3 separate regions of the Homo sapiens genome follow, and regions 1 and 2 are each linked to region 3. The links come from fine-mapping of genetic effects on gene expression. A gene starts in region 3. Each other region holds a variant in brackets. All regions are shown on one strand. Distances are from middle to middle. Region 1 overlaps EFCAB11 (EF-hand calcium binding domain 11). Region 2 overlaps TDP1 (tyrosyl-DNA phosphodiesterase 1). Region 3 holds the start of TDP1 (tyrosyl-DNA phosphodiesterase 1).

The links. PIP is the estimated chance that this variant, and not a neighbour inherited with it, causes the effect.
Region 1: its variant is fine-mapped to the expression of TDP1 in whole blood (INTERVAL, PIP 0.97).
Region 2: its variant is fine-mapped to the expression of TDP1 in whole blood (TOPMed, PIP above 0.99).

Annotation. Positions count from the first base shown.
Region 1 is chr14:89,881,605-89,889,287 of GRCh38, reverse strand. The region is part of intron 5 of EFCAB11 (EF-hand calcium binding domain 11); the gene reads left to right. Among named protein-coding and RNA genes, the nearest start is that of EFCAB11, 69 kb to the left of the region's middle. RefSeq lists a silencer at 7,129-7,248. The variant T/G (reference allele first, on the strand shown) is at 4,073.
Region 2 is chr14:90,027,966-90,035,648 of GRCh38, reverse strand. TDP1 (tyrosyl-DNA phosphodiesterase 1) reads right to left here. Exons shown (of 17, transcript NM_018319.4): 16 at 2,435-2,543. Among named protein-coding and RNA genes, the nearest start is that of KCNK13, 30 kb to the left of the region's middle. The variant G/T (reference allele first, on the strand shown) is at 3,985.
Region 3 is chr14:89,951,312-89,958,994 of GRCh38, reverse strand. TDP1 (tyrosyl-DNA phosphodiesterase 1) reads right to left here and starts at 3,068. Exons shown (of 17, transcript NM_018319.4): 1 at 3,025-3,068; 2 at 2,195-2,417. It overlaps EFCAB11 (EF-hand calcium binding domain 11), which reads left to right and starts at 4,265. Exons shown (of 6, transcript NM_145231.4): 1 at 4,265-4,409; 2 at 4,994-5,089. The coding sequence starts at 4,335. RefSeq lists enhancers at 502-1,010, 4,036-4,536 and a silencer at 2,741-2,970.

The sequences.
Region 1 (7,683 bases), 70 kb after region 3:
ATTTGGGTTTTTTTGAAAATTACTTTCATTTTGTCTCACCTCATGAATAAGATGTTCCATACATTTCCTTAAAATGGTGATTAAAATAAATTGTCAAAAAAAGGAAGAAATTGTCTTCATACAGCCCCTTTTAATCTTCAGTGTTGTTTCATGGCTCTTAATTTTCAGATTTGAAAAATCATTCTAATTATCATGCAAACCCTTCCTGATCTCATAGGCTTTTCTCTGCCTCTGTGTTTCTTCTGGGTTGGAGAATTTGAATTGTTTTTTCCATTTGTCTGGTCCTTGACCACTAATTTACTGCCATGGTTCTTTCTGTATTTCCCTTTTGGTATTTTCTGAAATTTAGCAATTAGAACTGCAAACAGAGACAGTATCACAGCGCCATGGTTTTATAAACAAAGACAGGACAGCTGTCTTAGTCCATTTGGGCTGCTATAATAAAAATACCATAAACTGGGTGGCTTATAAACAACAGAAATTTTTTTCTGACACTTCTGTAGGCCGGGAAGTCCAAGAGCAAGGAGCTGGCAAATCTGGAGTCTGGGGAGGGCCCACTTTCTGGTTCACAGATGGTACCTTCTAAATGTGTCCTTGATATAGTTTGGACATTTGTTCCCACCCAAATCTCATGTTGAACTGTAATCCCCAATGCTGGAGGTGGGGCCTGGTGGGAGGTGTCTGGATCATGGGGACAGATCCCTCAAGGCTTGGTGCTGTCTTCATGTTAGTGAGTTCTTGTGAGATTTGGCCATTTAAAAGTGTGTAGCACTTCCCCTGCTCCAACTCTTGTTCCTGCTCTGGCCATGTGACATGCCTGCTCCTGCTTTACCTTCTGCCATGATTGTAGGCTTCCCCAGAAGCCAAGCAGATGCCAACGCCATGCTTCCTGTAAAGCCTGCAGAACCATAAGCCATCTAAACCTTGTCTTTATAAATTATCTAAGCTCAGATATTTCTTTATAGCAATGCAAGAACAGCCTACTACAGTCTTCATATGGTGAAAGGAGAGAACTCTAGTCTCTTCAGCCCCTTATAAGGGCACCAATCCCATTCATGGGGGTTCAGCCTTTATGACCTAATTACCTTCCAAAGGCCCCACCTCCAGCCATCACATTGGTGATTAGGTTTTAACATATGCATTTGGGGCAGGCACAAATATTCAGACCATAGCAACAGCATTTTCTGTTTTATTTCCTTCTTTGTAATTCTCATCATTGTATTGGCCGTATTATCTACCTCAGTATGTTGAACAGTGACTTAAGGGCATGGCCTTTAAATGCTGCTAGAGGGCCATCTGGGATATAGCTGATAACTAAGAGCTTGCCTCTCTACAAGTATACTTTAGATTATTTTTTTAGAATTGAAATGAGAAGATTCACTATTTGCTATATCCATTTCCAAGAAAATATATTATAGCTTCAAGAAAAATGCGAGTGTTAACACGTGCTGAAATATGATACAGATGTTTAATGTCTTACTGTAATATTATTTTACTGTTCATAGTCACCTGCTTTTTTGATCCCTGCCTAAGTTTGCTTTCTTTATTCCATAACACCTGTTCCCAGGAATATATTTACAGTCTGTTGTCTTTTCTAAATGGTTGGTACATATGTAAGAAAAAGGTTGACTTTTACTGGTTTCTTTCAGTAAATACCTTAAGGATTCCTTGTTATTTATTTTCAGTGTTACTTTATTTCAATTTAATACCTTAGTACTGTTTTTACTTAAATACCACATAAGGAGTCATGCTATATGACCTAGGCATGACACTTACTTAAATGTTTATGGATAGAAAACAAATTATTTCTAGTTTTACTTTTTAAAAAGAATTCCAAAACTTCAAACTACACATGATAAATGGCCCTGTGTTTCCATAGGCTTAGAAAGCTTATGTCTAATTTATTACTCCTATGTGATCATGTGTATCTAGTTGTTTGCTACCTTCTATTTCAGATCTTTGCATTTGTAGTTCCCTGTTTAAATATCACATCATCAGAGAGGCCTTTCCTATCCAAAGTGACTTCACTCCATCTCCCATCCCCAGTAAATCTCTGCTGCCTGGTTTTATGTCATTCATAGCAGTTAGCAAATCTCAGGGAAGATTTTTGTTTTTGTTTCCTTATTGTCTATCTGTCAGGCTTGACTATAAAGCTTCATGAGAGCAGTGATGTTGTCTGTTCTTGAATACCTCTGGATGTTCAGGTTAGTTCAGAGCACTTGTTGAATAAATTAATGAATTTATTAAAGACTATAAAAACAATCTGTTTATATTAGTATGGTATTTGATCTTTGTTAATTCAAATCTATAAGATTTTCTGTGGATTATTTAGGATGTGAAGAAGGTATCCAGACTGACCTTAGGTTTAGGTTATAATAATTAGCTAACTAAAAAGTTAACAATGGATATATTTAATCTCTAAGCCTGATTAAATTTTCTGACTCTTTGGGCTGTCTCTGAGAATTGTGTATCTGCTGTAAATTACCAAAACTGCAATAAATCAGGAGTCTTTCCAAATATCGAGATACTAAATACATACTTTGATCTCTTTGTGTCCATTAGAAATATTTTAAACATAGAAAAGTATGGAGAATAATATGGTGTAACACTTGCATTTCAGCCACTTCCCTTTATCTTGTCTTAATATTTGTCATATTTGCCTCAGTGTTTGATCAAAAACCAGTCTTGATATTTTTAAGATATACTTAAATCAGTAGATCTTGAGTAAAGCAGATCACTTTCCTTTTTTTTTTTTTTTTTTTTTTTTTTTGAGACGGAGTTTCGCTCTGTTGCTCAGGCTGGAGTGCAGTGGCGCGATCTCAGCTCACTGCAAGCTCCGCCCCCAGGGTTCATGCCATTCTCCTGCCTCAGCCTCCCGAATAGCTGGGACTACAGGCACCCGCCACCACGCCCGGCTCATTTCTTTGTATTTTTAGTAGAGACGGGGTTTCACAGAGTTGGCCAGGATGGTCTTGATCTCCTGACCTCGTGATCCACCAGCCTTGGCCTCCCAAAGTGCTGGGATTACAGGCATGAGCCACCACGCCTGACCGAGCAGATCACTTTCTATAAGGTGAGAGGGCCTCATCTAATCAGTTGAATGCCTTAAGAGAAAACATGTAGGTCCCCCAGGGAAGAAGCAGTTCTGCCCACAGGCTGCCTTCAGATTTGAGGCTGCAACATTAACTCTTCCCTTGACTCTCTGTTATGTTGCATTGGTCTGTTTGTCTATCTTTGTGCCAGTATCACACTCTCTTTATTATATAACTTTGTAATCTTGATGTCTGGCAGTGTAAGTCCTAGAGCTTTGTGTTTTCTTCAGAATTATCTTGGCTATTTTTAGCCCATTGTGTTTTAAAATAAATTTTAGAGTCAGTTTTTCAATTTCCACCAAAGAAAAAAAAAGAAAAAAACAAGAAGCCAACTTCAAACCCAAAAGTTGCTGTCTTCTTTCTTTCTCTTTCCTTCTTTCTTTCTTTTAGTTGCTGTCTTCTTTCTTTCTTTCTCTCTTTCTTTCTTTCTTTCTTTCCTTTCTTTCCTTTCTTTCTCTCTCTCTCTCTTTCTCTCTCTCTTTCTTTCTCTCTTTCTCTCTCTTTCTCTCTTTTTTTTTTTCAACAGAGTCTTGCTCTGTCACCCAGGCTGGAGTGCAGTGGTGCGATCTCAGCTCACTGCAACCTCCACCTCCCAGGTTCAAGCGATTCTTCTGCCCCAGCCTCCAAGTAGCTGGGACTACAGGCGCACGCTACCACGCCTGGCTAATTTTCTGTATTTTTAGTAGAGATGGGGTTTCACCATGTTAGCCAGGATGGTCTCGATCTCCTGATCTCGTAATCCACCTGCCTCAGACTTCCAAAGTGCTGGGATTACAGGCTTGAGCCACCACGCCCGCTGGCTGGGTTTTTAATTGAATTTATATTGAATCTTTAGACTAGATCAATTTGGGGAGAACTGACAATGCCAAAATGTTTTAAGTCTTCCAGTGCATGAATAAAGTATATCCTTTTGTTTTTAAAGGTCTTATTTAACTTTCCTTGCTGTTTTGTAGTTTTAATGTAAAAGTTTTACACATATT[T/G]TATCAGATAATTCTGAAATATTTGGTTTTTATGTAGTTATATAGATTTTTAAATTTTATTTTCTACTTATTTAGATATACAATTGTTTTTTATATGCTGGTCTTACACCAGCAGCATGACTGAATGTCTTAGTCTAGTCCGTCTGTTGTAACAGAATACCATAGACTGGGTGGCTTAAACAACAGAAATTTATTTTCTCACAGTTCTTAAGACTGCGAAGTCTGCAATCAGATGCCAGCATGGTCTGGTTCTGGTGAGGAGGCTCTTCCTGGCTTGCAGATGGCTGCCTGCCTGGCTGTGTGCTTCTGGGTCCTTTCCTGGACATGTGCACAGAGTGGGGGATCTCTTGCTCTTCTTATAAGAGCACTAATCCCTTATGATGGTCCCACTCTCATGACCTAATTACTTCCCAAAGACACCACCTCCAAATACTGTCACATTGTGGGTGAGGGATTCGACACAGAATTTAGAGCAGGAGTGGGCACACACATTCAGTACATAATACAAAGTTAACTTATTCTAGTACTTCGTCTTAGTAATTGTAATAGTATATATTTTATGTTTTCTAGGCATGCAATCAAGTCATCTTCAAACAATAGTAGTTTTATTTCTTCTTTTCCAATTCTTATGTCATTGATTTCTTTTTCTTTTCTTACTATATCAGCTAGGGTCTCCCACATAGTGATAAATAAAAGTTATGTGAGCAGGTATCCTGTTTCTTCCCCATCTTGGTGGGGGGAGGGGAAAACTTTAGTATTTCACATTAACTATGGAATATGCAATAGGTTTTTGGGTTTTGTTATGTTTTTAGGGGATAAATAACCTTTATTAGATTAAGGGAGCTCCTGCTTTGCTAAGAAATTTTATCATGAATAAATACTGACTTTTATTAAATGCTTTTTCTGCTCATGTTGCCATAATCATATTTTTCTCCTTTACCCTGTTAATGTGATGATGATATGCAGTAGACCAATAGTAAAAATAGAACTATTGTACCATTAGTAAATGTGAGGCTTAGAGGATATACAATTGTATAATTTTTTTTTGTTAAGGGCATTTAAAAATTACTGTTTTCTTATTATTTTTTAGAGACAGAGTCTCCCTGTGTTGCCCAGGTTGGAGTGCAGTGGTGAGAGCATGGCTCACTATAGCCTCAAACTCCTGGGCTCAAGCAATCTTCCCACCTCCGCCTCTGGAGTAGCTGGGACTATGGGCATGTGCTACTATGCCCAGCTAGTTTTTTAAAACTTTTTTGGAGATGAGGTCTCACTCTGTTGCCCAGGCTAGTCTTGAACTCCTGGCCTCAAGCAGTCTCCCACCTCCATCTCTTGAGTAGCTGGATTACAGATGTAAGCCACTGTACCTGACTATATGGACATTATTTGTAGTAGATTCCACAATGCTGTTAAATTTGTCTATATCTAACAGGTACTTGGGAAGAATAATTAAATGAACAGAGAAGTGGTTTAGAAGTGACAGGTGACTTGGCATTTGTGTCCAAATAAAAAGTAAATGTACATTTGGCCCTCTATATCAGCAAGTTCCATGTCTGTGGATTCAACCAACTGAGGACAGAAAATATTTTTTTTAAGTTACATCTACGCTGAACATATACAGACTTTTTTCTTTGTCATTATTTCCTAAACAATATTGTATAACAACTGTTTACATGCCATTTACAATGTATTAGGCATTATGAATAATCTGGAGATGATTTAAAGTATACAAGAGGATGTGCTTAGGTTATATGCAAATACTACAATATTTTATAGTAAAGACTTAAGCATCTATGAATTTTAGTGTTCATGGGAGGTCCTGGAACCAGTCCTTCATGGATACCAAGCGATGACTATATTTATATATTCAGTCACCTTTTGACAAAGCTTAATGGCAGTATTTCTTTTGTGAGTCTGAACAAATTTTCAAGAAACTACAAAACATTCCTCTAATATCAATTTCTTTTATTCAAAGATGTACTAGAATATTATTATGTTAAGATAACTATCTTAGTCCATTTGTGTTGCTTTAAAGGAATACCTGAAGCTGGATAATTTATAATGTAAAAGGGTTATTTGGCTAAAAATTCTGATGGCTGGAGAGTTCAAGATTGGGCGTTTTGCATCTGGTGAGGCCTCAGATTTCTTCCACTCTTGGTGGAAGGCAAAGGGGAGCTGGCATGTGCAGAGATCACACGGCAAGAGAGGAAGCAAAAGAAAGAGTGGGGAGGCGCCCGGCTCTTCTTAACAACCAGCTCTGGTGGGAACTAATAGAGTAAGAACTCACTCACCCTCAACCCCAAGAGAGCACATTCATCTGTTCATGAGGACCCACTTTTCCACCCCCAGGACCCAAACACCTCCCATTGGGCCCCACTTTTAACACTGGGAATCAAATTTCAGCTGGAGGTCTGAGGGGACAAACATCCAAACCATAGCGGTAGCTGTAGGACTTTTTAGCTCTGCCTTCTTTAAATTGTATATTATATGTAACTGAGCCACAGACTGAGAGGTGGGTAGAACATTCACCAGGCCTTTTCTTGTTCCTAAGAACAGTGAAAATTCAAAGAAGGTACACTCTGTAGGAAATCGGTATTTCCCATCATTGCTTATATAAATCTTAAGCAACCTTATTTTAAGGTGAGTAGATGAGTGAATGGATAGAGAGAGAAAAAAAAGAGAGAGAGTGAGAGAAGTCATAGAAACTTGCTGTAGGTTTTTCACCTGGATGAAATGAAACATCACAGATGGTTTCTCACAGATGATCTCTTGGCTTCCTTTTGTAGGAGTTTCTCCCAGGGCAGTGCATTCTTTGTCCATGGTGGGGAAAGAGTCAAAGTCACTATATCAAAATGATCAGTATTCTATAACATATTTGAATTTAGACCATCTCAACATATGCCGCACATACATTTCCCATTGTGCTTCACCCTTAACAGAAACAAATAATAAGACAAGGTAGTATTTGAACCTCTCAATGAAGAGTTTATAATGCATTGAATAAAGTCTTCACAGATACCAATATTTTATTCGTCCCTCTGGCACCCAGGAAGTTTTTCAACACTCAGGCAATGCATGATTGTAAGATTCATGTTAGGTAAGAAATGTGCCTTTCTTTTGTAAAGTAGAAAAAAGGTGTTTGAAAGGGGAAGTGGGATTAGAAAACCAGTATAGCTCCACACAGGTGCTCTTGAGCAAACCAGTTTTTGGAAGCATTATAAATAGAAGTCAAAGTTCTGTTAATTGATTATAGTAATACTACATTGCTTATGTAACCCTAAGCATACATGCTCCTATGTTTAATGCTACTGATCTTGGTTGTAGACCCAGGTTTGAAATTATTTTTGTTCAAGTGCATGCACACTGTCAACTTCATACCTTTACTCTTTAATGAAGGAAAATTTAAGACAAGTAAAATTTAGAACAGATTTTGTATAGTTGGTAGTAGAATTTGAAAATATATTAGTTCCAGGCCAGGCACAGTGGCTCATGCCTGTAATCCCAGCACTTTGTGAGGCCAAGGTGGGTAGATCACCTGAGGTCAGGAGTTTGAGACCAGCCTGGCCAACATGGTGAAACCCCGCCTCTACTAAAAATACAAAAATTAGCCAGGT
Region 2 (7,683 bases), 77 kb before region 3:
GATAATCTCAGTTAATCTTTTCAATAACCCTATAAGGTAGATACTCACAGTTCCTCACTGTGTAGACAGACACACTAAAACCTAGAGAAAGTAACTAAATGCCCAAGTCTATTTAGTAAGTTGTGGAGTTGGCACAGAAACATGGCCTGATTTTAAAGCAGGGTTTTCCTGGGGTTTTTTTTTTTTTGGTGGCAGGTAAGATCCTGACAGACTGCTTTAAATTCTGATAAAAATCTAGATAGCCTTGCTACCGAAAACGAAATATGCATGAATACACAAGAAATTTAGAGGACTCAACAGAAAGGCATAGGGGATTTCCACACTTTAGAAAGGAGAAAAAGAATGCCTCCTGAAACTTAGCATCAAACTATTGATTAGAGAAATACAAAGTTACCAGCAAGAGGCAGGATGGCACACTGGACAGCATGAGATAGGATTAACTTTGTCAGATGTGTTAACACCATCTAAGAAAGGGCCCATCAGACAGAGAAGGCTTGGTTTACTATGAAAGCTGAGAAGGTTAGTGGGACAGAGGAGGCTTGGTTCACCATGAAAGCTGAGAATGGTTAGCGGGACAGAGGAGGCTTGGTTCACCATGAAAGCTGAGAAGGTTAGCGGGACAGAGGAGGCTTGGTTCACCATGAAAGCTGAGAATGGTTAGCGGGACAGAGGAGGCTTGGTTCACCATGAAAGCTGGGAAGGTTAGTGCGACAGAGGAGGCTTGGTTCACCATGAAAGCTGAGAAGGTTAGTGGGTAGGGAAGTTGTTAGATTCCATGAAACATTGTTGAGGGAACAGAGGAACCACTGGGCAAGGCCAAGCTTGGTAAGAACTGGAGATTTTGGGGTATCAATGAGTGATGTCATTAAAATTTGCCAATTGAAAAAAAAATCTTTTCTCTGTTCAGATTTAACACTGGCTCAGAAACCTGCAGATTATAATTTGGCTATGTGGGCCTCTCCTTTCCAGTGGAGAATATGCTGATTTGGTGATGTAATTTGCCATTTTAAATTAAGTGTGTCTTGATTATATATCTCATCCTGTCTGAGTTTGCTAAGTGTGGACCCACCTTAAAGACAGATATTCTCAGGGCTGATAAAAGCAGCAGAGCAGCCTGTGAGGCTGGGACACACGCAGGCCAGACATAGGTGGGTACACTGATGCCAGCCAGCCTTCCTCTGAGCACAACTGAACCTTCTGCAGCTATTCCTATTGTGTTTCTACTGTGAAAGATACTTGGTCACTGCCCTTAAGACTCAATGCATGCAGTTTTCAAAGTGTAGCCCCTGGGGACCTCCCTTTTGAGGGTTTGTGAGCATGGTGGTTGGGAGGGCCTGTGAAGTCAACATTATTTTCATTGTAGTATTAAGCCATCATTTGTTGTTTTCATTTTCATTTTTACACAGGTATACAGAGGCTATGCGATGTGATATCACAACAGCCTCAATGAGAACACAGCAATGAGAATTCAGGTGTCACCTTTTAAGATGCACATAAAGAGGCTTGCAAAAACATAAAACACCACTTTCCTTGCTATTTTCTTCTTTTTGGAAATTGTCATAAGAACTTTTTTTTTTCCTTAGAGTTGGGGTCTTGCTCTGTCACTCAGGCTGGAGTGCAGTGGCTCAATCATAGCTCACTGCAGCCTCAAACTCCTGGGCTCAAGCGATTCTTCTACCTCAGCCATCCAAATAGTTGGAACTACAGGCATGATCCACCACACCCGGCTATTTAAAACAAATTTTTTTTTACATACTGGTTCTCGCTATGTTGGGCAAGGTGGCCTTGGGCTCCTGGCCTCAAGCAATATTCCTGCCTCGGCCTCCAAGGGTGCTGGGATTACAGGTGTGGGCCACCGTGCCTGGCATAAATGTACGTTACAATAGATTTATTATTGTTACATTTCTTGGTTTTAATTTCTAATAGTTAGACTTAATGACCTTTTGACCTTTATGATGGTGTGAAAGTGATACGCATTCAGTAGAAACAGTACTTTAGTAGTCTCCAATAAATTCTATGAGATAGTCAACAATTTATTATAAAACAGTCTTTGATTTATTTTGCCCAAGTGTAGACTAATTTAAGAGGTCTGATCATGTTTAGGGTAGGCTAGACTAAGCTATGGTGCTCAGTAGATTTGACGCATTAAATGCATTTTTGACTTATGATATTTTCAATTCATGAGGGGTTTATCAGCATGTAGCCCCAGTGTAAGTCAGGAAGGATCTGTATAGTAATTATAGGAGTGCAAAGGGATTCCAAGACTAACCAGTGGCTACAAGGCCCCAGACAGGCTGGCAAAGGGCCCTCTGCAAACTTGAGCTTCCAGAGGGTTCCATGAGCCAGGATCCCACTGAGACCAAAGGCTTCTCCTGGGCTCTGTTTGTTTTTCTTATGCATATCCACCCGTGGTTTTCCTTTATCTGTGTCTCACCTTTACTTCCATACAGTTCTGGAGGCAAATCATATGGCACAGGAAAGGTGGCCATTGGCTCCTGGCTGCCAGCGAAGAACTTCTGTTTCACTTTGAAACTGTCTAGACCCTGCAGACACACAGAGGAAATCTATGATTGCACCCCATTTTCTGGGTTTAAAAAAAAAAACCAGAAGGCCTCAAGAAGCAATAATATCTTTATGGTACCTAAATAAAATTCAAATTATTTTGGAGGTATTTTCAATGTTCATAGGCAAATATATTTACAACCCCCCCGCCCCAAATTATTTTCCTTTCTAAACATAAGAGCTTTAATTTTCAGGAATTAAGTTATAGCAAAGTTTGCAAAAGTTTTCAAAGGATACAAAGAAACAAGAGAGACAATTTTGGATATGATAGCCCATTTCAACCCAACATTATGTACAGTTTGCAGGGAGTTTGTAGAACTCACTGTATAAAAATACCTCAAAATACTTCCAACATTGCTATAGTAACAGGCTGCCTGGAGTAAGAAGAAATAAAAGCTGCTTTCATGTATAATGAAAGTGTTCCAATATAATGTGACAGAAGTATAAAAATGAAAATTCTTTAAGACCTATCAAAATGGAAGGTTTATTCCAAGAACTCTAGAATAGGGTATTAATTTTAGATCTTAATCAGGGTGGAAGTGGAGGTTCTATATCTAGGCTGATGTTCACACTGCCACTTCCTTCCAACACAAGGCCTGCCGCAGTGCAGGTGCTTACCACATGACCGATGTGCCCCCTCGTGCTTCCATACATTGACCAACTCCTGCCCCTTCGTGGATCATCCTGGCATTCTGCTTGTCCGTCTGTCTCTCATTCCTTCTGTCCACCCATCCACACACATATCCACCCTTCAAATCCTCAATAGGCACATACCCAACAGTGCTGATGTCTTAGGAACCCATAAAAAGAACAAAGACTGAGGTGCAACTTAGCAAGCGGAGGCTGGTCATGGGCAGTGTCAAAGAACATGGGGAGGTCCGTGTTGACTGGGCTTCAGATAATCTGGGTTCTAGACTTTTCTCTGGCATTTATTAAGCTGAGTAAATGACTGATGTCTGCACATTCGTTCATTCGACACTTTATTTCTCGAGTCCCTCTTCTGGGTCAGGCATGGTGCCAGGCACTGAGTGTACAAGAGTTAACATAAACATCAATATCCTTGTCCTCATGGAGTATACAGTCTGGTGGAGGGACATAAAATACATCTATAAAAGTAAAATAAAAATTACTATTTGTGCTAAGTGCTGCAAAGAAAAGCAAAGGAGTGCCATAAGAGAATAGCAGGCCTATTTTAGACTTGGCAGGAGCGGGTGATCAGTGGAAGCCTCTCTTAAAAAAGCAACACCTTTATTAAACTCTGAAAGATGAGCAGAGTTTGGTCAGGTGGGAGTGGAAAGAATTATGTTGCAGGTGGAGGGAACAGCATCCGCAAAGGCCCAGAGGTGGCAAAGAGCCTGGCAGGTCCCAGGGACTAAAACAGATGTTGAGTGGGACAGTTGGCCACTTTTATTAGGTTTCTTT[G/T]TTTTTTGGAGACAGAGTCTCACTCTGTCACCCAGTCTGGAGTGCAGTGGTGTGATCTCGGCTCACTGCAGCCTCTGCCACCCGGGTTCAAGCAGTTCTCATGCCTCAGCCTCCCGAGCAGCTGGGATTACAAGCATGCACCACCATGCCTGGCAGATTTTTGTATTTTTAGTAGAGACAGGGATTCACCATGTTGTTCAGGCTGGTCTTGAACTCCTGGCCTCGAGTGATCCACCCACCCCAGGCTCTCAAAGTGCTGGGATTACAGGTGTGAGCCACTGTGCCTAGGTTTCAATTTCTGTGTTTGTCCGCATATTCTCACTCATAGGTGGGAACTGAACAATGAGAACACATGGACACAGGAAGGGGAACATCACACTCTGGGGACTGTTGTGGGGTGGGGGGAGGGGGGAGGGATAGCTTTAGGAGATATACCTAATGCTAAATGACAAGTTAATGGGTGCAGCACACCAGCATGGCACATGTATACATATGTAACTAACCTGCACATTGTGCACATGTACCCTAAAACTTAAAGTATAATAATAATAAAATTTAAAAAAAAATGTTCTGTGTTTGTAAAAGTGGGAAAGGCTGAGTGTGGTGGTTCACACCTGTAATCCCAGCACTTTGGGAGGCCGAGGCAGGCAGATCACTTGAGGTCCGGAGTTCAAGACCAGCCTAGACAACATGGTGAAACCACATCTCTAATAAATAAATACAAAAAAAAAAATTAACTGGAGTGGTGGTGTGTGCCTGTAATCTCAGTTACTTGGGAGGCTGAGGCAGGAGAATAGCTTGAACCCAGAAGGCAGAGGTTGCAGTGAGCCAAAATCACGCCACTGCACTCCAGGCTAGGTGACAGAGTGAAACTCCATCTCAAAAAAAAAAAAGAGTAAAAATGAGATAATCAAGCTTCTGGAGACATTACCATTTCTAACTTTAGCACCCAGCACAAGTCCTGGTACATAGTAGGTGTTCAAGAAATACCGATCTGTAGAAATGGAACTAAAGTTCCTTTCCTGCTTCCTTTATAAGTTTCTGCATAAGAGCAAATGGCACAACCTGTGTGAAAGTGTTTTGTGCATGTCAAGACCTACAGAAAGGTATGGGTTACAGCACTGATGAAGATGGTGATCAGTAATACAGTGAAAGGCAGGAGGTGGCAGATGCCAGGCACAAACTCTAGACAGAATAGGAAGAAGTGCCCTTCTTCTAGTCATTTTCCTTATCCAAGAAGGATAAGGAAAGGCTTTGTAGAGGATATTTTAGCTAGGGCTTGAAAAATTGGTGTAATTTTAATAAACAGAGAGATGATAGGGAAGAATACCAAGCGTGAGAACAGCATAATCAAAGGCAGGGTCAGCAAAGCACAGAGCAGGCACATCCCGGGAGGGCGAGGGCACTGACACAGAGGAGGGTGACAGGGAAGACACAGAGGAGGGGGACAGGGAAGACACGGAGGGCAGGCAGGCCAGCTCGGCAGCACCTGCCCCCAGGTTTCCCTGCTCACATGTTACCTTTGACACACTCTGGATCTGAGGAAGTCCCTAATTATCTCTTGCTTTTGCAGACTGCTTACTTGCTGTGTGGCTCTAAGCAAGTTACTTAGCCTTTCTGGGCCCTGGTTTCCTCGTTTATGAAATGAAGATGATATGAGCACCTAATTCATAGGGCTACTGTGAGGATATTTAAGTTATTTAACAATGACTGGCCCATGGTACTTATTCCAGGAAACAAATGAGTATAATTATAAGTATTTTCAGGACAATTCTCTGTGATGTAATCACTCCTATTTTACAGAGAAGGAAACATATTTGGAGGTTAAATAGTTGCCCAAGGCCACACAGCTATTAAAAGTGGCAAGGCCGGGCACAATGGCTCACACCTGTAATCCCAGCACTTTGGGAGGCCAAGGCGGGTGGATCACCTGAGGTCAGGAGTTCGAGACCAGCCTGATCAACATAGTGAAACCCTGTCTCTACTAAAAATACAAAAATTAGTCAGGCATGGTGGAGTATGCCTGTAATCCCAGCTACTTGGGAGGCTGAGACAGGAGAATCGCTGGAATCCAGGAGGCAGAGGTTGCACTGAGCCGAGATCGAGCCACTGTACTCCAGCCTAGGTGACAGTGATGAAACTCTGTCTCAAAAAAAAAAAAAAAAAGGCCGGGTGCGGTGGCTCATGCCTGTAATGCCAGCACTTTGTGAGGCCGAGGCGGGCGGATGACCTGAGGTCAGGAGTTCGAGACCAGCCTGGCCAACACGGAGAAACCCCATCTCTACTAAAAATACAAAAAATTAGCCAGGTGTGGTAGTGCGCATCTGTAATCCCAGCTACTTAGGAGGCTGAGGCAGGAGAATCACTTGAACCCAGAAGGCGGAGGTTGCAGTGAGCCAGGATGGCACCACTGCACTCCAGCCTGGGTGACAAAGCGAGACTCTGTCTCAAAAAAAAAAAAAAAAAAAAATAATGGCAGGGCTGGAAATCAAACCGTCTTTCTGATTCTTGGTCCTACATTCCTTCCACCAAGCAAACAAATGGTCTCACATTCACCACCAGGAACTATGACAAAGGAAGAATTCCTTGAAAATTTAAGGCAGGCAGGGTCAAGATGAGCCAAATTCTAGAAACCCTGGTATTTGGACATTTTAAAAAACAAAGAGGCTAGTGGCTGGGAAGTGATTCCAAGTTAATGATTATTATACTTTTATGGAGTTTCAGGTAAAAAATGACTTCTCTCTTCTTTAGCTCCTATTAGTCCTGATATTTTCAAATATATCGTGGCCACAGGTTATGGTTCTTTACAGCCTGGGCCCAGATCTGAGGCTGTGTGCTCGACCCATGACTCCATTTTGTGATATTCGACCTCAGATATGAGAAGGTTTGAACTATCCCTGTCTGACAGAAACCAATATGCTTTTATTTTGAATGCCATTTCTGATCCAAATTCTAGGTTATTACAAAAAAAAGTACTACTTTCCCCTTCAATCTGAATGTCAAATAATTTGAGGCTGTCTTCTAATTATCATTATTTATATATCACAGTGGTATCACTTGGCATTTTACAAAACAGAGGAAGGCACCCTCCCAGGCACAGATACTTAGAAGACAGTTAAGACAATACGTTTATAAAACACCAGGTGAGAGGGTGGACATATATCACACATGAGAAATTGCTGGCTTTTCCTTTCTTCAGCTTTGGGAGTGAAAGAGCTGATTGTCGCTCTGATGATTTATGTTTAGCAGCTTAGCTCAATCATAGGGAACAGGAGGCATGCTTCAGTTTCAGTTAGAGATGTAATTTATGTTTTTATTTGCAGCTATCCGAGTAGCAACCTCAAGTGGTAAAACCCTACACAAGGCATCAGGCTTTCCTGGATAAAACAGTGATAGCAGCTGAACTTCCCAGAAGGGGCACACTTAGTCAAAGACCAACTAATTGGCAAGGAAGTAAATTATAGGAAGGTGGTGGCATCTTTCCTGCAAGGCAGTATAGGATCAACAACTGGAAGTGCTTCCAGCTAGGGGCTTAGGAAAAGCTTTGTGGAGAAGTGTAAACCTAACAGGATTTTGAAGGATGGGTTTTTGATAAGCAAAGGGCTGTTTGTGTGGGGCTGGGGGAATGCAGTTCAGAAGGAAAGAAAAGAGTGCAACGTCATCACAGAAGTGACATCAAGATTCTGATTTGACTGAAAA
Region 3 (7,683 bases):
AGCAGGGTTTGGGCTCTTCTGCAGGCACCAACAATTTTGTTTACCATCAACAGAAGGTATCTTATGGCTACGTTATATTTGAAATAGCAAAATAAAGTTTATTTTATGTAAAAGAATGATTGGATTCAAACAAAAATATTAAGTATATGATAGTCTATGTGATAGCGGCAGGAGGCAGACAAATCCCTAGGCAGATAGGGGCAGGGCCCCAGTGAAACCCCACCTGCAAACCAAAGACAGTTTAAAGCCTGAAAGCCAAGCTACAAGTGTTGGGTAAATCCACGGACCGGATTGATAACCCCTCTTCCCACTTGGCACACTTTCCTCTGATCAATCCCCACCCTTCACCTACTTTACATATATCTACCCTTCCCTAATTGGTTTTTTACATTGTCATGCCCACCTTTGAGTGGTGCCTTTGTTTTAGCCTTTTTTGCATACTCACAAACCATGGAGCACACACTCCCTCATTCTGAGCCCATAAAAGCCCCAGACTCAGTCACACCAGCGAACTGCCCACCTTGGGGTCAGGGCAGGGGCCATCCACTTGGGGTCCCGTCTCTGCTGAGAACTGTCTCATCACTGAGTAAAACTCACCTCCGCCCTTTTCCCCTTCGGTTGTCAGCCTAACCTCATTATTCTTGGACGCAGGACAAGAAATTCGGACCAGCTAAACAGCGAGTGCAAATAGAGCTATAACCCTGTAGCACTCCGTTCCGCTAGTGAAGCAATGGGAGAGGGAGCTGCTGGCTGCCACACACCCCCATTCATTGGGCTGCAGATGGTGGGACTAAAAGAGCTGTTAATACATCTCTATTTGCCTGGTGTCTCCAAGTGTTTGGGCACTACTGCATCCCCCTCGTCTGGACACCAGAATCTGCTACCAGAGTCACTTGCCATACACCCAGGCCATCCACAAGCCCTACATGGAGCCTGTGACTGGGCCAGCACTTGGAACAGCCAGCCGGGCCTCCAGGCTTGCTCACTCACTCACAAACCGACTCCTCGCGGGCTGAGCATGCAGTCATAGTGGCCACGGGATCTGGGCGGGGATGAAAGACAAATGCATTCTGCCAGGCTGAGTGGGCAGGGCACCTCCTGCAGCCAGCCCAGGGCTGGAGGTCTCCAGCTGGCAAAGCGGCCCTGAAATAAATCCTGTGTCATGTGTTAAGAGAATAAAGCAAACTGGGGAGAAGGCAGGTGAGTGTGAGTGAAATTTGGCAAACACTGCACTAACATGAAAAATCTAAGAAATCTTCCCACCAAATGCTAGCTCAGGACACTGTTAGCACTTTTATTAAGGACTTTAAAACATGTTGTGGATATAAAAGGGTACTCCATTTAGAGCTACTAGTGTTTCCTCACTCCCCACTATATGAGACCCAGCTGGGGCATTTCTCTTTCACCTCCAGCTGCTCCTTCTCATTGAGCTTAAAGACCATCAGCTGGGCCTGGAGGCCATGCTCCTCAATTGAGTTCCTGTGTGGCCAGTAATAGGCAAACATGGTCCCTTGTCTCAAACCCGGCCATGACTAGGGAGTAAATGTGCACTTGGGCAGGTTAGTTAACTGCTGAGCCTCAGTTTTTTAGTCTGTGAAATGGATATCATGCTTACCCCCTGGAGTTCATTCATTCAATAACTTACTGGGCAGCTATTATGTACCAAAAACTGGGAATGAGGCGTTAACAATATAGTTTCTACCCTAGCAGAGCTAATTTCAGGGCAGAAGAGACAGACCCACACATAAAAATTTTAATAGCCAAGATGAGTTAGACATTCATTACATTTTATAAGTATGAGACAGAAAAATAGGGGTGACCTTTGGAATATACTTAAAAAGTAACATATAAATGAGACCCAGAGGGCCAAAAGGAACCTGCTGTCTAAATGATGGGGTGAAGAGCATTCCCAAGTAGAGGGAACCCAGCCGGCAGAGGTGGGAAAGAGGTCATAAGAAAGGACTTAGGCAAGGCAGGCAGTGGTCCGAAGCGGGTGAGGGGAGAAGACTTGTTAAAGAAATTGGATTTTATGCAATGATCAATGGGACCCCACTGAGGGCTTTAAGAAGGGGAGTCCGATTTACATTTATTTTTTTGAGACAGAGTCTCGCTCTGCCGCTCAGGCTGGAGCGCAATGGCGCAATCTCGGCTCACTCCAACCTCTCTGCCTCCCAGGTTCAAGCAATTCTCCTACCTTAGCCTCCCGAGGAGCTAGGATTACAGGCATCCACCATCACGCTCGGCTAATTTTTCTATTTTTGTAGAGACGGGGTTTCACCATGTTGCCCGGGCTGATCTCAAACTCCTAACCTCAAGTGATTCAGCCGCCTCGGCCTCCCAAAGTGCTAGGATGACAGGCGTGAGTCACCGCGCCCGGCCTTCGATTTGCCTTTTTAATACAGCTGTGTGCTCCAACTCTGCGGAGAATGGGTTGAAGACAAAGGAAGTGAGAGGGCTCTTGCTGAAGGCGTTGGGGACGGAGCAGATTCAGAACGTGAGGAAGTGACGGCAGCAGCTGCTAACCTTACTGCGTGCTCATTTGGGGCCGGCCAGGCACGATTCGAAGCGCCTCACCAAGTGTAAACTCGCTTCACCCTCAGGACAACTCTATACTACGTACCGTGACCGTCCTCCTATACTGGGAAACCGAGCACAGAAAGCTTAAGCGCCTGGCACGTGGTGGGCGCTTTCCTACTCACTTTCTGGGACCACGCACCTGTAAGCTTAGGTCTGGGAATAAAAACCCGAGCAGGGGCCCCTAGCGCCGCGCCCCGGCAGGACACAGGTCTCCGCAGCGCCCGTGCGCGCCCCCTGAGGCGCTGTGATCGGAGGAAACCGAGGCCCCGGGGCCGAGGCGACCCTGCCCCATCTTCCCGGCCGCGCCGCTTCCTCGCGGTCCGCCTCCAGCCCTGCCGGACCCCAGCAGCCCGCGCACCGCGACTCGGCCAGGAGCAGGATCCCGGGCCCGACCGCAGCCCGCGAGAGACCGCACCGAGTCCGCGCCCACTGCCGCCCAACACGTACCTGAGGCGCACAGAACCAACGCTTGCCTCGGATCCCGCCCCTTCGGCGGCCGCCGCGCATGCGCGCAGTTCAAACCCTGGCGGCAGCGGCTTGTGCCTCGAGGCCCGGCCCCTTCCCCTTCCGGAGAGCCCACCGCTGGGTCCTAAAGCCCGCCGGGTGTTTACCCAGGACGGGGCTGGGGAAACCTGGTCTCTCCTAGCTCTTGGCTTACTTCCTGGAGACTTCTTAAAACGAGAGGAGAACCAGAAAGGCGTCCCCTAACTTCGCTCTAGTTAACTAATAGCAAGACTCACCCTCTTTACAGGATTCTCATGGCTCAGGCTCCCAGGGCTCCATGCAGCGGCGTTTGGTTTAAAGTGGAGAGAGGATACGCTTAGGTTAAAGGCAGCTGCAAGGAGACCTGTGTCCTGGGAGGGGCTGGGTGCAGACTTTGAAATCTGCTGCAAAATAAAAAGTTAAATGAGTTCCCATTGGACTCAGAACCTCGAATGTCTGTTCCTTCTTCGCAACAGTTGCGTTCTCGTAAAATCTTCTGAGAAAAGGAACTCGCCCCACGTTCCTTGCCTTTAATAAGGATGTTTGCTGTGGGATTTGGGCTCGGTGCTGTTTATGGTATTTATTCTTGGAATCTCTTTCACACTAGGCATCTCTTCCAGAGGACTGAGTGAAATACATCTGTGTAAATATAACGGCTCGTTTCGTTCTTTCATTGAAGATCTACTTTGTGCCAGGCACAGTGCTAGGTGCTGGGATTATCTTGAGGACATAACAGATGTAGTAGCTGCCCTAGGAGCTCGATCCCAATGACTTGCTGATCTGAACGAGAATCCTGGACTTGGCTCTTTTCGTTTGGTTCTTCTTGTTTGTTCACAGTCTTTTTGTCTCCTATAACGTTTAGCATAGTGTCATAGATCTAAATGATTAAAAGTAACCTATTGCAAGATGGAGGGAGAGAATGAAATAAATCATGAACCAGGCATTGAACCAGCACCTAGAAGCGCTTGGATTTCCAGCCGCGCTCAACGAGTTAAGGGACAGTCAGGGGGTGGAGCCAAGTGCTGGGGGCAGGCCTGGGCGCCTCACTGCCAGGGCGGCTCCAAGGAAACGTAATTAAACAAAGACTCTGGCCAATAGCCCTGCGGGATTAACGCGAGTGGCTGGCAGGTTGTCCAATGGGAGGAGACGTCGGAGTTGCGCGGTGAAGTTCGGCTTCCTGAGCCGCGGTGGGCGTGGCCGCGGTAGGCTGCCAGCCAGGCTGGGAAAGCGGTGGTAGCTGGTTGGGTTGCTGGGGCTCGGTTGTTGTAGTCGCGATGTTCTTCTCCGAGGCCAGAGCCAGGTCGCGGACGTGGGAAGCCAGTCCCTCGGAACACAGGAAGTGGGTGGAAGTAGGTTTCCGGAGGGCGACTGAGCCTCGGACTTCAGCTTGGCCTGGGCCTCTCGCTTCCTCTCCCGTGTCTGGGTCTCACTCTGCCGGGTGTGCAGATAAGACCTGGGCTGCCTGTCCAAAGGGTCGTGGTTAATGACTGATCCTGGAGCTGCAGGGCTCCTGGCTCCCCGTCCAGGACTACGGCTACCTCCAAGTTCCATCTCCTTTCTCTCTATATAGTCTATTAATGGTAACCTTGAGTCTGCATCTCTCCCGCCTTTCAAAGCCAGCCCCTTTGCCTCACCTTCCTAACTCCAGGACTGAATTTTGGGTAGAATTTATCTCAGTGGCCTAAATGAATTAATTTGCGTCACCTAGCGGTTAACTCGTTTGCACTTTGAGGGAAATTTCAGCCCATGTTTAAGAAAATTTCAGTCCATCTTTAAGATTTCTTGAGAATTAATATTGGGATAATGAAATTCTATTTTCATACTCTACCGCTGGGCCAAGTTTTAGATTTTCGAGGTCCAAACTGTATAATAAACTAGTAATAAAAATAAACCATTTCTGTCTCATTAACTAAAGCTATTTAATGTTCTTCAGGTATTTAAAGCATGTGATGAAGATCACAAAGGATATCTCAGCAGAGAGGACTTTAAAACTGCTGTTGTAATGCTGTTTGGGTACAAGCCCTCCAAGGTAGAGCTTTCTTATATATTTGGGGATGGGGTAGACGATCAAAGGTGAATGGATCCTAAGAAAAGTTCACAGGGCTAGCTTAGGATGTTTATAAATTGCTTTATAAGCAATTTCAGAGATGTGTCCAGTGCTGAATTTTAGCTTCCTCTTAACACCTCAGCCCAGAGATGAAGTAGAAATCTTTTCCACTGGAGTCTACACAAGCCTATCTCACCACCAGGCTGCTAATAACTACTATAAATACAAGATGCTAGAGAGGTGCCAAGAGGGAAGACTGAGAGGGGAGTGTTGGTAACAGGAGAAATTTACATAGGACATGACATAGTCTCTTTCTCGTTTTACTTTTGTTGCTTTGTTTATAAAATACATCCACGGTCAAAAAATTAAAACAGTGCAGAAAGGTATAAAGTTGAGCATAAAATCCGCTCGCCGCCTACCAGAGGGTCCCACTCCTAGGGGATTACCATTAACAGTTTTTTTGTGTAATTCTGAAATTTTCTATCCATGACATACATATGCATAGTCTTTTATTGAAAACATAAATGGGTAAATATTGTGCCTACTTTAACTTGCTTTTCTCATTTAACAATATATCAACCTAAAAGCACACACCACTACTGCATTTTAAAATATGGTTGCATATTCTTTTTAGCCAGGTTCCTGTCTGGGGTTATATAGGTGGGGTTTTTTTTTTTTTTCTGCCAACATTGCTGCAATGATACACACATTTATGTCCTTGTGGCTGTATATCTGTGGAATAAGTTCCTAGAAGTATAACTGCTAGGTCATGGAATATGTACGTTTAAAATTTTGTTAGATATTTGCTCTCCAGAAAAGATTGCACCAATTCACCAATAATGAGAGTTGAGCTGAGCCTCCATGAACCTCCTGCTTGAGTAGGGCAAGTTTCCTGCTCACCCCTGTCTTTATGCTTTTCTGCTTTCCTGTTACATTCATTCGAGAGACAACACCCTTCTTGTTAAGCTGGAATTAGTCAGAGTCAAGATATTGTCCAGATTCAAGAAATTGAGCTGCCACCATCAAGCAAAGGAAGCACTCAGAGCTCAGCCTGGAATGCCATCCCTCACTCTCATTAGACCAGACAGCTTGGCAGTTAATTAGGGCCCAGCTGTTCTCCTCATGAGTGGACTGTGCCTTTCTGTCAGATTGAAAGCCCAGCAAAGCCAGGGACCCTGTGATGTCATGCCTCTCCGCCCTATTTGTGTCAACAGAACATACTTACTGTGAAGTTGTGATGCACAATAAGTATTAATATATTCTCTTGACCCAAGTAGGTTGCATGAACAGCTCAGGTGGGTTCAGAGTGGCTCAGCTATGAGGGGCTGCCTAGTTACTGAGAAGCTTATTATGGAGCTCAGAGAAGTAGTCAGGGCTGACTCTTAGAAATGGCAGCTCTCCTGTTTACCTGTAATCATTTCAGTTGGAATTACAAAGCAGGTCAGCTGAAAAGAGTCAGCCTGTGAAGCATTGTATTTAACTTGGATTCACCTGGAAAGGTATCTTGTCTCATTTTTGCCTTTATCACCCTTGAGTCTATTTGGTTTCAATTTTAGAATGAGGAATTTAATGACAGATACAGTGATGTAACATACTGTACATACACTCCATGAAATTTAACAGATTTTACTTTTCATATTGAGGTGAGGTTTTCTATTTTATTTTTTAAGCAAATGAACTATTTAGTAACCGCAGGTCACTAAACGGTATTTACTAATAGCATGTCACCTATAAACTTAGTCATTTGTACAATGAACTTTTATTATGCAGGTGACACTTAATTTCTGTGAAATTCAACAGATTTTTTTAGACTAGGTTGAGGTTTGGGGTTTAATTTTTTAATATTGCTTTTGAGCAAATGAAATATTCACTGACTGCAGGTCATGAAGCAATAAAATACTTATATAATAAATCACTTATACATTCATGCAGTTTTTTACATAATTAAGTTTATTTATTTGTTGAGATGCAGTCTTGCTCTGTCACCCAGGCTAGAGTGTAGTGGCGTGATCTAGGCTCACTGCAACCTCCACTTTCCAGGTTCAAGCAATTCTCCTGCCTCATCCTCTTGAGTAGCTGGGACTACAGGTGCACACGACCATACCCGGTTCTTTTTTTTCTTTTTTTTTTTTTGTGTTTTTAGTAGAGATGGGGTTTCACCAATGTTGGCCAGTCTGGTCTCCAACTCCTGACCTCAAGTGATCCGCCCACCTCAGCCTCCCAAAGTGCTGGGATTACAGGCATAAGCTACTGTGCCCACCCATACACAATGAAATTTATTGTTTCTATTTAATAAAAGGAGTACTTGCTAGTTGCTAGTGATATAAAGATGAATGAAACACAGTCTCTACTTCGAAGCAGTTCAGAGTTTAATATAGAAAGACATAAAACTGTGATAGATACCAAGAAAGAGAAGAGATTGAAAAACAAAGTGAAGGGAGCAAAGAAGGAAGGCCTAATTCTAGTGGTAACTATAACAGTCTGGGTGGTCATTTAGACTAGAGAAGATAGACTACTCTGATAAGTATCTAGGAACACTTTGTGGGTGGTGGGACAAGTTAGGCCCTGATGACTGA